Regions from separate parts of the Homo sapiens genome. Here region 1 is linked to region 2. The links come from fine-mapping of genetic effects on gene expression. Tissue or cell type: NK cells. Region 2 holds a variant in brackets; the other region holds the start of a gene. All regions are shown on one strand. Distances are from middle to middle.

Region 1 (8,100 bases), 40 kb before region 2:
GTCACTGTGCACAGCCAAATTTTTGTATTTTTAGTAGAGACGGGTCTTCATCATGTTTGCCAGGGTGGTCTCTAACTCCCAGCCTCAGGTGATATGCATGTCTTGGACTCCCAAAGTGCTGGGACTACAGGCGGGGGCCACTGCGCTGGCCCTCAGTTCTTTCAGGAAGTCCCAAAACCTGTGAAATTAACCATCCTCCCAGCTGCGCTTGCTTACAGAAACAAAGGCCAGGTGCCAATAACCAGGAACCAGCCACAAGATGAACTGAACTCAGCAGTGCTGCCTTGACCTGAGTTACTGCTTCACTGCTATACTAAAATCTCCACTCAGTGCGGAGAAATGTACCTTGCTAAGCACAAACAGTGCCAGGTGCAAAAAGAATCTACACACTCCAGCTGCTCCTGGAAGAACCCATCCAGGAATCCCTACCCCAGTCTTCACCTATCTGCCCAAAAAACCCTTAAGATCCCCCTTTACCCAATGTCCAGGGAGCAGGTGCTTTGAGCAGAAGCTCCCCTTTTCCATTCTTGACCAATGAACGTTTCTGCTCTGCTTTACTGAACCTGGTTTCATTTTATTGGTAAGAACTGCACTGGACGGGTCAAGCGACCCTCCCTTGAGGGCGGTAACAGTACCTGCTTTGTGAAGCAGCAGCTGCAGAGATTCTGGTGCTTGCCATGGCCATGGAAGCTCAAGGAAGAAGTTAAGACTGAGAACAACGATCATATTTGTTTGAAGGTGGTGTGGCAGGATAGTTCTGTGGCGCAGTTTAAGAGGCATACACTGCCTAGTAAACTGATGAGAGCCTATTGTGAATAACAGGATTTGTCAATGAGGCAGATCAGATTCGGATTTGATGGGCAGTCAATCAATGAAACAGACATACCTGCACAGTTGGTAATGGAGGATGAATACACAATTGACGTTTTCCTGCAGGAGACAGGTGTCTACTAAAAAAGGAACCTACTACTTTACTCCAAACCTCTGTTCTTACAGACCAAGATTACATCCTCAATTAGAAAACTGCAATTTGGTTCCACTACATCCCGACCAATATAGTATAGTTTTATTTCATTTTCACCTTCCCCTTTCCTTTGCTGTACATACAGTAATGGGTATGTGTGCACCAGCGTATTGCATTTGTGTTTTTGTTTGTTTTTTTGTAAAATGGCCAATGGTGTGTTCTGATTGACATCAGGTGGAGATGGGACTGGGAAAAATACTGCTTCTGTGAAAATACCCCCTTTCTCCATTCTTGGCATGCTCATTCAGCTCTTATCTTTTTTTCATATATTTATTTTAGATGAAGTCTTGCTCTGTTGCCCAGGCTGGAGTGCAGTGGTGTAATCTTGGCCCACTGCAGCCTCCGCCTGCCAGGTTCAAGCGGGACTACAGGCATGTGCTACCACATCTGACTTTTTTTTTTTTTTGAGACAGAGTCTCACTCAGTCACCCAGGCTGAAGTGCAGTGGCATGATCTCAGCTCACTGCAACCTCTGCCTCCTTGGTTCAAGCGATTCTCCTGCCTCAGCCTCCCGAGTAGCTGGGACTACAGGTGTGTGCCACCACGCCCAGCTAATTTTTGTATTTTCAGTAGGACAGGGTTTCACCATGTTAGCCAAGCTGGTCTCGAACTCCTGAACTCAAGTGATCCACCCACCTCGGCCTCCCAAAGTGCTGGGATTACAGGCATGAGCCACCGTGCCCGGCTCAGCTCTTGTCTCTATATTCCAGTGAGTTATATTTTGCTCTGTTTTAACTAAAAAATGACAACATAAAAATCCTTCCATACTTTATTCAACTGAAGAATTTTAATGTTTTTCATTTATCATTGTAAAAACCAAGGACAATTGTATAACTTAAAAAAATCCTTCTAATCAGTGGATGATTTTTGTACATAGCTTTCACATGTAGGGTAATCTGTCTTTAAGTAGGGATAAATTACTTAAAAATAAACCAAATCATGGCTCACTGCAGCCTCAACCTTCTGGGCTCAAGCGATCCTCCCACCTTGGCCTCCCAAAGTGCTTAGATTACAGGCGTGAGCCACTGTGTCTACAAAGTCTTGGGGTTTAAATAAATTTGGTTAAAATGAAAAAAAGTAAAATTGACTTTAATTTGTATTTCCTGTATTTCTAATGATATACTAGGCATCATGTTATATGTTTATTGGTCATTTCTATTTCCTCTTTTGTGAAGGGCCTATTCAAGTCAGTTACCCCTGTTTTTTCCATTGTTCATCTTTTTCTCACTGAGTTGTAGGAGCTCCTGGGCATCAATCTTTTGTTAGTTTTTTTTTTTTTTTTTTTTTTTGAGACGAAGTATTGCTCTGCCCCAGGCTGGAGTGCAGTGGCCCAACCAATCTCGGCTCACTGCAAGCTCCGCCTCCCAGGTTCACGCCATTCTCCTGCCTCAGCCTCCCGAGTAGCTGGAACTACAGGCGGCCCCCACCACGCCCGGCTAATTTTTTGTACTTTTAGTAGAGACGGGGTTTCACTGTGTTAAGCCAGGATGGTCTCGATTTCCTGACCTCGTGATCCGCCCGCCTCGGCCTCCCAAAGTTCTGGGATTAGCAGCGTGAGCCACCGCGCCCGGCCCTTTCGTCAGTTTTAACACATCCTTTGTTAAGCATGAATGTGTTTTATCTCTCTGGCTAACTTGTTAGGTCAGTGGGTAAGAGGGCAGGGGTAGGAACTACAGAATAATAAATTAGACCAGTTAAGGAACGTTTAGGATTACAACTTCCTGCTTCCCTTATAGCTCTCTCCACGTCTGTCAAAGTGTTGGAACGGCAGCATCCCCTATAAAGGCCCCTCTTAAAAAGTGAAGATTATTACCCTCCCATGGGAGGGAAGGCTACCTACAGGCTGTTTTTGTTTTGCTTTATTTTCTAGAAAACCAATCACAGGCCGGATGCGGTGGCTCACGCCTGTAATCCCAGCTCTTTGGGAGGCCAAGGCGGGTGGATCACCTGAGGTCGGGAGTTCGCCACCAGCCTGACCAAAATGGAGAAACGCCGTCTCTACTAAAAATACAAAATTAGCCGGGCGTCGTGGCGCAGGCCTGTAATCCCAGCTACTCAGGAGGCTGAGGCAGGATAATCGCTTGAACCTGGGAGGCGGAGATTGCGGTGAGCGGAGATCGCGCCATTGCGCTCCGGCCTGGACAATAAGAGCGAAACTCCATGTCCAAAAAAAAAAAAAAAAAAGAAAAGAAAAAAGAAAACCAATCACAACAAGGCAGATAAAGAAGGATGAGTTGTCAGATTTTGATAACTGCGGATGAGGGGCGTGGACACACGGTTGGGAACTCGCAGCCGCTCATTGGTGGCTGGTGCGGGGGAAGTTGTTTCATTTGCCCCAGGTGTTGCCCAGTGACCTCCTGCGCGTGCGCCGCGTCTGTCCAGCTGCGCGGGAAGCTCAGGGGAGGGAAGGCCAGGTTCCATCCATTCAGTCACTCCAGACCTGGCACCCAGCCAAGCGCGCGGTTCCTTTACAGACTTTCCTGCGGGTCCACAGAAATGCAAGGATCCGCCTCTGTGCTGGAATTAGAGTCTGGGAGGGGGAATGCACAGTGCGCCCTGGGTGGTATTTTAGTTGTCGCCTTCAGGGCTAGCTCCGAGCCTCGTGCCCCGGCCTCCTCAGCGCTTAAGGAATCTCTGGAGCGCATGTCTTGGCGAGGGGAAGTGGGGCCCCGTTGAAGCTGTCGAGGCGTCTCTGAGAGGGGTGGGCTGGGGCCTGGAGAGGCCTCCGTGAGGACGCCGTTTGCTCTGGGCTCTGCCTGGCAGGGGACTTTGGAACCTGGCCTGAAGTGTTCAAGAAGCGGGCGCGGGGGCAACACGCGCGCGGGGACGCAGTAAGATCACAGGCTGCAAAGAAAACAGCACTAAGCGTCCTGGAGGACGCTGGAGCTTCAGGATAGTGTCCTTCCAGGTCGTGGGACCGCCCCCTCCTCCCCGCACTCCACCTTCCCGCAACTGGATCACTCGGCGGAAGCCTCAGGTGGGCCCCGGGGTCCAAGTCCGCCGCCGGGAGGGCGGGGGCGGGCCCCGAACCGCCGACTGCAGGGCGCGTCACGGCAGCCGCTCCTGATTGGCGGCCACGGCGGTCACGGGCAAGGTGCCCCGGGATTGACGCCGCCTGTGGCCAGAGCCGGAGTAACGGGACTCCCAGCTGCGCGTCGCAGTCCCGACGCGAGAAGGGCTGGAGTCGGCGTCCAGCCTAGAGCCCCCGGTGGGAGCCAGGCCGGGACGCGTGCACCATGCCCTACCTGCTCATCAGCACCCAGATCCGCATGGTGAGTACCGGCCGCCTGGCGACTTGGAGCCGGGACCAGGCCCTAGGGGGCTGCGACTGCACCTTCATGCCTCCCTCCTGGGCTGCACCCACCGGGGACTGGACCGGGAACCCGCCCAGACACGCCCCCTTGGCCGGGGAGAGGGAGTGGAGAAGCGGGCTCAGCTCGGCTTCCGGGACTCAGCGAGCTCTGGCCGGCCTGAAGCCTTTATTGCCGCGAAGGGGCCCGGGTACGTGCGTCCCGGCAACAGGGCGACCTCCGGGCGCTTCCGGCTCCTGTCCTACCTGTCGGCGGGAGAGACCCAGGGAGCCCTGGCCTCACGCGCAGCACCTAGTGCCCTGCACAGAGCCGCTCCGCAGGGGAAAAAAGGGCGAATAACCTGAGAGAAAGAGGTTTGGAAAAGATAAGGACCTGCCAAGGCGCTAAAACCCCGGTGCCAAGTCCTTGACCCATAAACAGCAACTAGCTGCACCCTTAGGCACTTCCAGGAAGGGCTATCCCTGAAGCTTTAGGGAAGGAAGAAAAGAAAGAACACCCTGCTTGGAAAAAAGGAAGGCGAGAAGGGGCTGTGCAGTTAGAGGTGGGAACACCATGAGTTAGAAGTCACGTTCCTTTCTCTGGGCGCAGTTTCCTTATCTGTAAAAAGGTTCTGATTGCCCCTCAGGAGTCCCCTTTTAGCTTCAGAAAGACATGACGGGCAGCAAGGTGCTCTCTGCCCTTGCTCACTGCCCAGTGCTGGGGTGAACCAGCAAAGGGTACACAACCCCCTTGGTGGGTTCACCACGCAACAGAGAGCTCTTGCAGAGCCCTGGGCAGCGGTTTGTGAAGCAGCCATCTGCTCAGCTGCCAAAATGTGGATTCCTGGGTCCCTTCCCAGACCTCCTAAAACTCTGTCTGGGGCTTGGGAACCCATACTTGGAAATGGCCCCCCAAAGTGATTCTTATTTCTTAAAAGATATGGCTTTATTGATATGTAATGTGCATACCATAAATTCTTTGATTTAAAGTGTACAATTCAGTGTTGTTGTTTCTTTAGTGTACTCAGAGTTGTGCAACCATCACCATAATCAGTTTTAGAACATTTCTAATACCCCAAAAGGAAACCCTGTACCCACTGGCAGACACTCTTGATTTCCCCCAAGTCCCTCAGCCCTAGATAACCACTAATTACCTTTCTGTGGTAATGTGATCTGAGTCTGGCTTCTTTCATTTACATGTTTATTTTGTTTTGTTTTTTTGAAATGGAGTCTCACTCTGTCACCCAGGCTGGAGTGCAGTGGTGCAATCATGGCTCACTGCAGCCTCAAACTCCTCCCACCTCAAGCGATCCTCCCACCTCAGCCTCAGTAGCTGGAACTATAGGCTCGTGATACTTTGCCTGGCTAAAGCTGAGCTTTAAGGCACTAGGGAGGGCGCCTACATTGCTCCTCCTGATCATTGATGGGCTCCACCCCTTCACAGCTTGTGCTCAGCCCCTAAGAATCCTTGCTACTCTCTGTAGCCTTTACCTGAACCTTACTCAGGGCTAGCAGGCAGGGGAGGAAGGACAGGCAAGACCTTCCACCTCCTCCTGGCAGCCAGCCAAGCAGCCACTGTGGCTTACCTTGCAGGAGGTGGGCCCCACTATGGTGGGCGATGAACAGTCGGATCCAGAGCTGATGCAGCATCTGGGGGCTTCAAAGAGAAGAGCCTTGGGAAACAACTTGTAAGTAGCAGCCTCCCTCAGTATCCTCTCCCTGCCAGCCCCTAGACCTGCCTCTGCTCCCTTTATACAACCTCCAAGCCCAGGGACAGGGCCCAGCATCAGAGCCCCCTGCCTGCATCCTGGGGCTCTGTTCTCCGGAGGAGTTGGTCCCATCTGTAGCCTCTCCAACATCCCCCCTCTCCCCCACGAGGCTTGCTCTGAAAGCTTTCCACATCCTTACTGGAACCGCAGAAACAGAGTCCGTTCCCTGGGTCTAGGACTCCACTAGCAGACTGTTCCTTGCCCTGCCCTCTCCTAAGCTGGACCCCATCAAGGACAGACAGGCACAGAGAGAAAGGTTTTTGTCGTGAGGATCTGCATGAGTCGCAAAGCTAAGCCCTAGAAGCAGGGAGCAGGGAGCCTGCGTCCTACCTCCAGGGTGGCTGCTGCCTGGGGACCTAGCCATTTCCCTTGGCATTCTTCCTAATGCCTCCATGTCTAAACTGTGACTACTGCTTCCATTCCTCCTCTCACCCCTGGAGGCAGGGAGAACCCAAGCTACACAGGCTCTCTGAAAAGAGTTGTCAGAGTGAGTGCCAGTTCAAATCGGGGAAAGAGGAGGGCTGATCCCAGCCCCTGGGTCAAGGCTCGGGGACAGAAGCCAGCCCCCTCCCTTTGCCATGAGGCACTTGCCTCTCCATGCCCAGCTTGGGGCTTGAGCCCTTTGTCTGCTTCATGGTCTTTCAGCATCAATTAAACCTGACAGAAGGACTACCAGCACTCTCCATGCTAGGGAGTGGCGCACAGAGCCAGGAGCTACTGGGGCTCAGCCTTGTTGCTACAGAACTGCAGGACAGCCAGGGCAGTGAGGGGCCTGGAGGCTTATTTTTTTTTGAAATGGAGTCTCTGTCGCCCAGGCTGGAGTGCGGTGGTGCAATCATGGCTCACTGCAGCCTCAGCCTCCTCCTACCTGGAAGCCTGGGTGGGGAGCAAGCCCAGGGAGGGCGGCAGCAGGGCTGTGGTCAGACTAACATGGTCTACCATCTGGGACGCTGGGGAACCTGATTAACCCCTCTGTTTTCTCATCTATCAATGGCCACAACAGTGGCACCTTCACTAGCTTGTTGGGAAGAATAAATGAGATAGCTCGTGAAGTACCTAGAAGGGGAGGAGGCAGGGGGCGTGCACTTACCCCAGCGCCCAGCAAGCAGCCAGCAAGTGTGAGTCACTACAAGAGTGGCCAGGCTGCCTGCTGCAGACACTAGCTTTGTACCAGGAGCTTGCTGTGTGCCCCTCCTCACCCCCCCCATCCTGTCTCTTTGCAGTTATGAATACTACGTCGATGACCCTCCCCGCATAGTCCTGGACAAGCTGGAACGCAGGGGCTTCCGTGTGCTGAGCATGACGGGGGTGGGCCAGACGCTGGTGTGGTGTCTGCACAAGGAGTGACCTTCTCATGCTGATTTGCAGACGGGGCACCCCTGTGGAGGGGCTGCTGTGGGCCCTGACCTCCAAGCTCCTGCCTCACCGTCTGCCTTGCTCCTCTCTTCCCAAATCATCACCGCCATGGGCCCAGCCCCAAAGGGCAGTGAATGGCCTTCTCTGAAACCCTGCGTCAAGCAGTGGGAGAGGGCAGTGCCCGGTGCCCTGGTGCTCCCAGCTGCCCTCCTGCTTCGGGCCTGGGCCGAGGGCCTTGTGTAGGCCATGTTCCTCGGGCAGCTGCCCCGGGCCGGAGCTGGGCACTCCAGCGGCCCTGGCGCGTGGCTCCTGCATAGCTAGCCCAAGCCAATAAAGGGCTGTGATGAGTGGCTGCGCCTGTGCTCTGCTTGTGCACGGACTCTGGGACTCTCACCCTGCGGAGCGTTTCCCTGGGGGTCTGCCCACTTCCTGGGAGGGGCGCCAGGCCTGGGTGGAGCGCTCTGCGGCAGAGCCCAGCACCTTATACCTATGTATGGGATAGAGGTAAAATCTTAAAAAAAAAAAAAATTTATTGGTGACGTTGAAGAAAAGGGCTGAGGGGTGGATGGCTGGAGCTGGGGCTACGTAGGCGGCCCCTCCTGGTCTTCCTGCTGCATCCGTGCGATCAGCTGTTGCCGCTCGGCCGCCTGGCGCATGCGCAT
Region 2 (8,100 bases):
AAAGTGCTGGGATTACAGGCGTGTGCCACCGCACCTGGCCTCAACATGGTTTTGATCTGCATTTACCTAATGACTAGTGAAGTTGAGCATCTTTTCATGTGTTTATTGACCATTTGTACATCATCTTTGGGGAAATGTCTATTGAGATTGTCTTTTTCTTTTTTTTTTTTTAATTTTTTTACAGACAGAGTTTCACTCTGTCACCCAGGCTGGAGCATGGTGGCGTGATCAGAGCTCACTGTAACTTCAAACTCCTGGCTTGCCCATTTTTTAACCGAGTTGTTTTTTTGGTTGTTGAGCTGTGTTTTTTTTTCTACAATCATTTAAACATGTAAAACCCATTCTTAGCACATAAGCCATTAAAAAAAAAAAAGGTCAGCTGGGCACGGTGGCTCACGCCTGTAATCCCAGCACTTTGGTCAGGAGTTCAAGACCAGCCAGGCCAAGAGAGTGAAACCACATCTCCACTAAAAATATAAAAATTAGCCAGGCGTGGTGGCAGGAGCCTGTAATCTCGGCTACTCCGGAGACTGAAGCAGAGAATTGCTTGAACCTGGGAGGCAGAGGTTATAGTGAGCCGAGATTGCGCCACCATGCTCCAGCCTGGGCGACAGCGAGACTCCGTCTCAAAAAAAAAAAAAAAAAGGTCATGGGCCATTTGGCCCCTCAAACTGTAGTTTGCCCTACTCCTTCATTTTACATTTGGGGAAAGTCAGGTCCTGAGAGACGCAGTGACTGCCCTTGGTCTCCTGATTCTCAAGTAAAGTCGTTGCAGTGGTCTCTTTAGCTACTACTTCATTCATTCAACAAATACTTATTGAGAACCTACTATGTGCCAGTCACCAGGTAAGGGGCTGCTACAGAAGAGCATGAATCAGATCTGGTCCTCAGAAGTAGGAGTGCAGAGGGGATTAAGGCATGAGACAAATAATCACACAGATAAATACATAATTGCAAACTGAAATAAGTGCTAGAAAAAAGAAAAACCAGCTGCCATGAAATAGAATATAAGGCAAGGCTTCTCTGAGGATGCCATTTCGACTGAGTTCTGAAGGACAAGTAAAAGCAACCCAGATTAGCAGAAGGGGAGGAAGAGCATTCCTGGCAGAGGAAAATGTATGAATGAGCTAAGAAATTGTTGAGTATTGGCTGGGTGCGGTGGCTCACGCCTGCAATCCCAGCACTTTGGGAGGCCGAGGTGGGCGGATCACGAGGTCAGGAGATCAAGACCATCCTGTGAATGGTGAAACCCCGTCTCTACTAAAAATACAAAAAATTAGCCGGGCGTGGTGGCGGGCGCCTGTAGTCCCAGCTACTCAGGAGGCTGAGACGGGAGAATGGCGTGAACCTGGGAGGCGGAGCTTGCAGCCACTGCACTCCAGCCTGGGTGACAGAGCGAGACTCCGTCTCAAAAAAAAAAAAAAAAAAAAGAAAAGAAAAGAAATTCTATTGAGTATTTTATTAGAAGTGCTAAATAGGGTTTTCAGGGAGTAGCAAGATCATTCCATTTTCTGTGAGGAGAATTGGAGAGGCTCAATAGATCAGAATGGAATAGGCTGAAAGCAGAAAAAAGTTGGCAGGCTCCTCTAAACATTCAGCTGAGTGGATGGGGGCCTGGGCTGGAGCAGTAGTGGTGGAGACAGAGAGGGTGAACAGGTTTGGGGATTATTTGGGAGGCTGACTCATCAGGACCCGGTGATGTTCTAGATGGCAGGGGTGAGAGGATAGGGAGGTACTGAGAATGACTCCAGGTTCCTAGCTTGAATGGATGGATGGTGGTGCCACAAGATGGGGAAATCCAAGGAAGGAGCAGGTTTGGAGAGAGAATTGAAAGAGTTCAATTTTTTTTTTTTTTTTTTTCGAGACAGATTCTAGCTCCGTCACCCAGGCTGGAGTGCAGTGGCTTGATCTCAGCTCACTGCAACCTCCGCCTCCCAGGTTCAAGCGATTCTCCTGCCTCAGCCTCCCAGTAGCTGGGACTACAGGCACGTGCCACCGCGTCTGGCTAGTTTTTATATTTTTAGTAGAGATAGGATTTCACCCTGTTGGCCAGGCTGTCTAAAACTCCTGACCTCAGGTGATCTGCCTGCCTGGGCCTCTCGAAGTGCTGGGATTACAGACATGAGCCACTGCGCCTGGCCAATTTTTGGATGTAGTAAGATTTAGACCGCTGTGAAACATCCACATGGAGGGATCAAACAGGCAGATAGATACACAGATTTGAGATTCAGAGAAGTAGTCTGAACACAAGTTAAATTTGGTGGTGGTGCTCATCACTACCACTGAACCGCGCTGGACAGGGCCAGGGAGCCTTAGCAGAAGGAGCAGAGGCCTGAGCTGGACATCAGGGCATCAGGGCATCAGGGCATCAGGGTTCTAGTCCCAATTCTGCCACTAACCACCTTCTCCGAGCTGCAGTTTCGCCATCAGTAACACAGGGAGCTTGGCCTCCATTAGGGCTTCTTTGACTTTTGGATTAAAATTCCCTCCTCTGGCCAGGCGTGGTAGCTCATGCCTATAACCCAAACACTTTTCAGAGGCCAAGGCGGGAGGACTGCTTGAACCCAGGAGTTCAAGACCAACCTGGCCAACATGGTGGAACCCGATCTCTACAAAAATACAAAAATTAGCCAGGCATGGCGGTGCACACCTGTGGTCCCAGCTACTTTTGAGGCTGAGGTGGGAGGATTGCTTGAGCCCAGGAGGCAGAGTTTGCAGTGAGCAGTAATCATGCCACTGACTCCAGCGTGGGTAACACAGAGAGACCCTGGGTCAAAAAAAAAAAAAAGAAAAAAAAAGTCCTCCTCTCCTCCAGAATAAATACAAAAAAAAAAAAAATCACGCATGATTTTCAGAGGTTCCTTCACCCAGTTCCTGGAGCCTTTCTGTAGAGGGCAAATTGAGAACTCCTAGGCTATTTGGACAACCAGTTTAGGAGTTCTTCCTTGTATACACTTTAAATATTTGTTTGTCCTCTAGGTTGCCCTATGGCAGCAACCTAGGTTGTCTATGACAGGTATTAAACCATGGTGCGGGGACACCAGGGCCTAGGTTTTTCTTGCTTTCTACCAAAAAGTGTGTTGCCATGAAGCTAGCCAGTGTATCCAAAGTGTAAATGGGAGTAAGTGCTAGAAAGGAGAATGGCTGCTATGAAAAGAAAAATAGGTAAGGCCTCTTTGAGGGTGCCACCTACTTATGCTCCAAAATAGACTGTATGTATTAATATATACATTTGCTTTCTTGGAATGCCCTGCCTCCATCTCCACATGTCCAAACTCTGCCCATTCTTCAAGGCCCCAAATACCTTCTCTCCTGCCTTTATTCCTTCTCTCAAACTAATAGCAATCTCAGCCTACACTGAACATCCACAGCACTTTGTACCCCTCTTAAGGAACTCACCATGTCTCCCTTGTATGCGTGAATCTTGCCCCCCCATTAAAGGCAGGAGCAGCACCTGTTACCCTTTATAGAGTGGCTTCACACCTATCCCTTATCTCATCTGAGTTAGAACTGGATCCCAGCCACCACTGCCCAGCTCAGACCTTGGTCTCTTGCCTAGACACCAGCCCCATCTGACCCCCTAGTGGCAGCTCTTCCATTCCTCCCACCCCCACCCATTTTCATTATGCACACTAGTGTTGAATTTTCTTTT[C/T]TTTTTTAAGAGTGGCAGGGTCTCACCCTGTCATCCAGGCTGGAATACAGTGGCAAAATCATAGCTCACTGAAACTTCCCAGGCTCAAGTGATCCTCCCACCTCAGCCTCCCATGTAGCGGGGACTACAGGTGCGTAACACCCTGCCCAGCTTTTTTTTTTATATATAGAGAGAGAGACAGGCTCTCACTACGTTTCCCAGGCTGGTCTCAAACTCCTGGCCTCAAGCGTTCCTTCCACCTTGGCCTCCCAAAGTGCTGGGATTGCAGGTGTGAGCCATCACACTCAGTCAAATACTTTCTTTAAAATCCAATTATGGGCAGGGCACAGTGGCTCATGCCTGCAATCCCAGCACTCTGGGAGACCAGGCAGGAGGATAGCTTGAACCCAGGAGTTCGACACCAGCCTGGGCAATATAGCTGGACCCCGTCTCTGGAAAAAAAAAAAAAGCAAAAACAAACACAAAACAAATTAGCCAGGCATGATGATGCACACCTGCAGTCCCAACTACATGAGAGGCTGAGGTGGGATCACTTGAGCCCAGGAAGTCGAGGCTGCAGTGAGCTGTGATTGTGCCACTGCATTCCAGCCTGAATGACAGTGAGATCTTTTCTCAAAAAATAGACATAAAAATAAAAAAAAAATAAAATCTGATTATGTAACTTCTCTAATTAATAGAGAATGACTTCCAACTGACTTCCTCAGGAGTTCTCAACTTCAGGGTTAGAAACTCTAGATTTCAGCCGGGCGCGGTGGCTCACGCCTGTAATCCCAGCACTTTGGGAGGCCAAGGCCGGCAGATCACTTGAGGTCAGGAGTTCAAGACCAGCCTGACCAACATGGTGAAACCCTGTCTCTGATAAAAACACAAAAATTAGCTGGGTGTGGTGGCACATGCCTGTAATCCCAGCTGCTCAGGAGGCTGAGGCAGGAGAATTCCCTGAACCTGGGGGGCAGAGGTTGCAGTGAGCCAAGGTTGCACCACTGCACTCCAGCCTAGGCAAGAGAGTGAGACTCCGTCTCAAAAAAAAACCCTCCAGATTTCCCACTTGGATCTTTTGTGAAATGTCTCAAATAGTTTCTCACTATTAATAAAGTACTAATTAAATAATTTGCAGGCAGGGCATAGTGGCTCACACCTGTAATCCCAGCACTTTGGGAGGCCGAGGTGGGAAGATCACGAGGTCAGGAATCCAAGACTGGCCTGGCCAACACGGTGAGACCCCGTCTCTACTAAAAATACAAAAATTAGCTGGGCGTGGTGGCGGGTGCCTGTAATCCCAGCTACTTGGGAGGCTGAGGCAGGAGAATCACTTGAAACAGGAAGGCGGAGGTTGCAGTGAGCCGAGATCATGCCACTGCACTCCAGCCTGGGCCAAAGAGTGATACTCTGTCTCAAAAAAAAAAAAAAAAAAAAAATTAGCCGGGCGTGGTGGTACATGCCTGTAGTCCCAGCTACTCCGGAGGCTGAGGCAGGAGAATCGCTTGAACCTGGGAGGCAGAAGTTGCAGTAAGCTGAGATTGCGCCACTGCACTCCAGCCTGGGCGACAGAGCGAGACTCCGTCTCAAAAAATAATAATAGGCCGGGCACGGTGGCTCACGCTTGTAATCCCAGCACTTTGGGAGGCTGAGGTGGGCAGATCACGAGGTCAGGAGATCGAGACCACGGTGAAACCCCGTCTCTACTAAAAATAAAAATTATTAGCCGGGCATGGTGGCAGGCGCCTGTAGTCCCAGCTACTTGGAGAGGCTCAGGCAGGAGAATGGCGTGAACCCGAGAGGCGGAGGTTGCAGTAAGCCGAGATCGCGCCACTGCACTCCAGCCTGGGCCACAGAGCGAGACTCCGTCTCAAAAACAATAATAAAAAATAATAATAATAAAGAATTTAAAAAATAATAATTTGTAAACATAGAGCACTTAGAATACTATCCAGAAAAAAAAAATACTGTCTAGGACATAGTAAGCATTATACAGATGTTAGGAATTATTAATCCTAAAATATTGAAACACGAGAGAGGTGGAGCAGATGCTTTTGATGCTTCATAGACATCCCATGGCCATTTCTGATTTCAGCTGCGGCTGCAGGGGACAGATTTGTGCAGGTTGACAGCATTTCTCAAGGGCCCTCTGGGTCTCTCTGATTTTCTGCCCCAGAGCTTCCTCTTCTCAAAAGCTCACTCACCCCATGAGCAGGGCAGCCCAGAAGTACTGGGACATTAGTGGGCACTATTTTTTTTTCCTTTTTTTTTTTTTTTTTTGAGACAGTCTCGCTCTGTCGCCCAGACTGGAGTGCAGTGGTGCAATCTCAGCTCACTGCAACCTCCGCCTCCCGGGTTCCAGTGATTCTCCTGCCTCAGCCTCCCAAGTAGCTGGGACTACAGGTGTGTGCCACCACGCCCGGCTAATTTTTGTATTTTTAGTAGAGAAGGGGTTTCAGCATATTGGTCAGGCTGGTCTCGAACTTCTGACCACATGATCCGCCCGCCTCGGCCTCCCAAAGTGCTGAGATTACAGGCGTGAGCCACCGCGCCCGGCCTAGTAGACACTAATTTTCTTTCTTTCTTTCTTTTTTTGAGAAAGAGTCTTGCTCTGTCGCCCAGGATGGAGTGCAGTGGCGCGATCTCGGCTCAGTTGGGCACTAATTTTCATTTGATGAACGCCTCTCCTTCGTATATTGTTAAAACTACCACCATGATCCAGGGGGAGATAAAAGAAATCCTAAATCCAGCTTGATCAGTGTTTCACTCCCTGGCATCTTTATCACCACCTAAGGTAGCATGGACCTCTATACCATCTGCCTTAACCTTCTGATCCTCCTGCTTTTAGCCCACTAACTAGCACATGCTGAGAAGGGCATCAGCTACTTGAAAAGAGTCAATGGGCTTGAGTGGAAAAGAAAATAGAGACAGCAGGGTCATCGGTCACATTGGCAAGGGGGCATGAAAAGGGAGTGGAGAGGCTTTGAGATCTTACTTTTCTTTCGTTCTAGGCTCTTAGTGGAAGAATTAAATCAGCCTGCAGAAGAGACTGAAATGAGGCACCTCTTGTCACAGTCAAGGCAGAAGCGGAAACGGAGGCCGAGACTGCGCAGGCGCAGAGGAGGCTAGCGTTCCTTGCTGCCTCGCCCCGCGGCCTCTAGGAGACAGGGGCCACGGGGAGAGCACAGCCACCCGGCGCGAAGAGCCCTCTGTACCCCGCTTCCTCTTGAGGCCCTCGGACCGTCCAGGAAATGTCTGGGAGCCCGCCTGCGGAGGGCATAGCGCCGACCCTCGCTCCCCGCCCAGGACCCGAATGAACCTGGAGAGCGGATGCCAGCAGTGGCCGAGGCGCTAGGACAGGAAGGACCGCCAGACCTCTCAAGATCAGCCTTCCTCGCCACCGTTCTCACCTCTTTGTCCGCTGCCTTCTCCTCAATGCCTAGCAGCGCGTACAGGTCCATCTGTAAGAGCTCCTTGGTCACTGCCATGGTTCCGGCCTGACGGATTCGTACTACAACTCCCAAGAGTCTAAGCGCGCGTGAGGACTGCAGGCTCCGAGCGGCGCCTAGCCCTCTGGGAATTGTGTTCTGGGTCAGGCTTGACTGACTCTGAGGGAGGCCGGCAGTCGTGAATGAACTACGACTCCCAGCAGCCCCCGTTGCCGCCGCTGCCGTACGCTGGCTGCAGGAGAGCGTCCGGATTCCCTGCTCTAGGTCGCGGCGGGACAGTGCCAGTGGGCGTGTGGGGCGGGGCAGGGCAGGGAAGGGAAGGGCGGAGCTGGGGTGAGGGTCCAAGGGGCCCAGGACTTGGCCGGCGTGATCTCAGCTCTGCAGACCCTGCGGTGCTGGGAGCCACCATGGAGAGTAGGTGCTACGGCTGCGCTGTCAAGTTCACCCTCTTCAAGAAGGAGGCGAGTCTTCCCTCCCCGAGGGCTGCAGGGCCAGGGAGGAGAGGAGGGAAAAGCGCGGGACTTAACGTCCAAAGACTTGGTCTTACGGCTCCTTTCCAGCTGTGTGGTTTTGATGAAGTCATTGATCCTCAGTTTCCATTTCTGTAAAATGGGGCTAACATTCTCTCGCTTTCAGGGTTTATGTGAGGGTCCACTGAAGTGCTTTAGGTGAGAGTTCCCTATAAACTGTAAAGCGCGCTGCCGTCGTTTTTGCAAAGCTACTCTTTTCTGTCGGCCCAGTGTAGCATCTGGCGGTTTTCTTCTCTCCACCCTGCTCCTCCGAAGCGCGGTGTCCATCACACCAAGCCCGTTACTCCCTCTGCTCTGAAATCTTCCCCATCCCGCAGCCTGCCCTTCTCCAGGTCGCTGGAGTTAGATTACCACACTTCCTCCTGCTTCCGGGGCACCATGGTGAAGGCTGACTGTCCTGTCCCTATCACAGACCTGCCAGATTCCTCTGGTAAACTGCAGGTTCCCTCTGCCTCAGTTGTGGCCAGGGATTCTGACCAGGAGATGATGG

Evidence for each region. PIP is the estimated chance that this variant, and not a neighbour inherited with it, causes the effect.
Region 1: GCHFR starts here. The variant in region 2 is fine-mapped to the expression of GCHFR in NK cells (Gilchrist 2021, PIP 0.95). The same link has a PIP of 0.9 or more in whole blood.

The regions. Positions count from the first base shown.
Region 1 is chr15:40,759,921-40,768,020 of GRCh38, forward strand. GCHFR (GTP cyclohydrolase I feedback regulator) reads left to right here and starts at 4,148. Exons shown (of 3, transcript NM_005258.3): 1 at 4,148-4,296; 2 at 5,907-6,001; 3 at 7,306-7,788. The coding sequence starts at 4,261. The coding sequence ends at 7,429. DNAJC17 (DnaJ heat shock protein family (Hsp40) member C17) reads right to left here. Exons shown (of 11, transcript NM_018163.3): 11 at 5,241-8,100. The coding sequence ends at 8,020. It overlaps LOC124903474 (a long non-coding RNA gene), which reads right to left and starts at 1,348. Exons shown (of 2, transcript XR_007064599.1): 1 at 887-1,348; 2 at 554-806. It also overlaps the pseudogene SUMO2P15. RefSeq lists a silencer at 3,712-4,161 and enhancers at 3,828-4,693, 5,471-6,260.
Region 2 is chr15:40,800,328-40,808,427 of GRCh38, forward strand. DNAJC17 (DnaJ heat shock protein family (Hsp40) member C17) reads right to left here and starts at 7,146. Exons shown (of 11, transcript NM_018163.3): 1 at 7,042-7,146. The coding sequence starts at 7,119. ZFYVE19 (zinc finger FYVE-type containing 19) reads left to right here and starts at 6,762. Exons shown (of 11, transcript NM_001077268.2): 1 at 6,762-7,541. The coding sequence starts at 7,263. RefSeq lists enhancers at 6,425-6,514, 6,975-7,024, 7,065-7,114, 7,745-7,794. The variant C/T (reference allele first, on the strand shown) is at 3,653.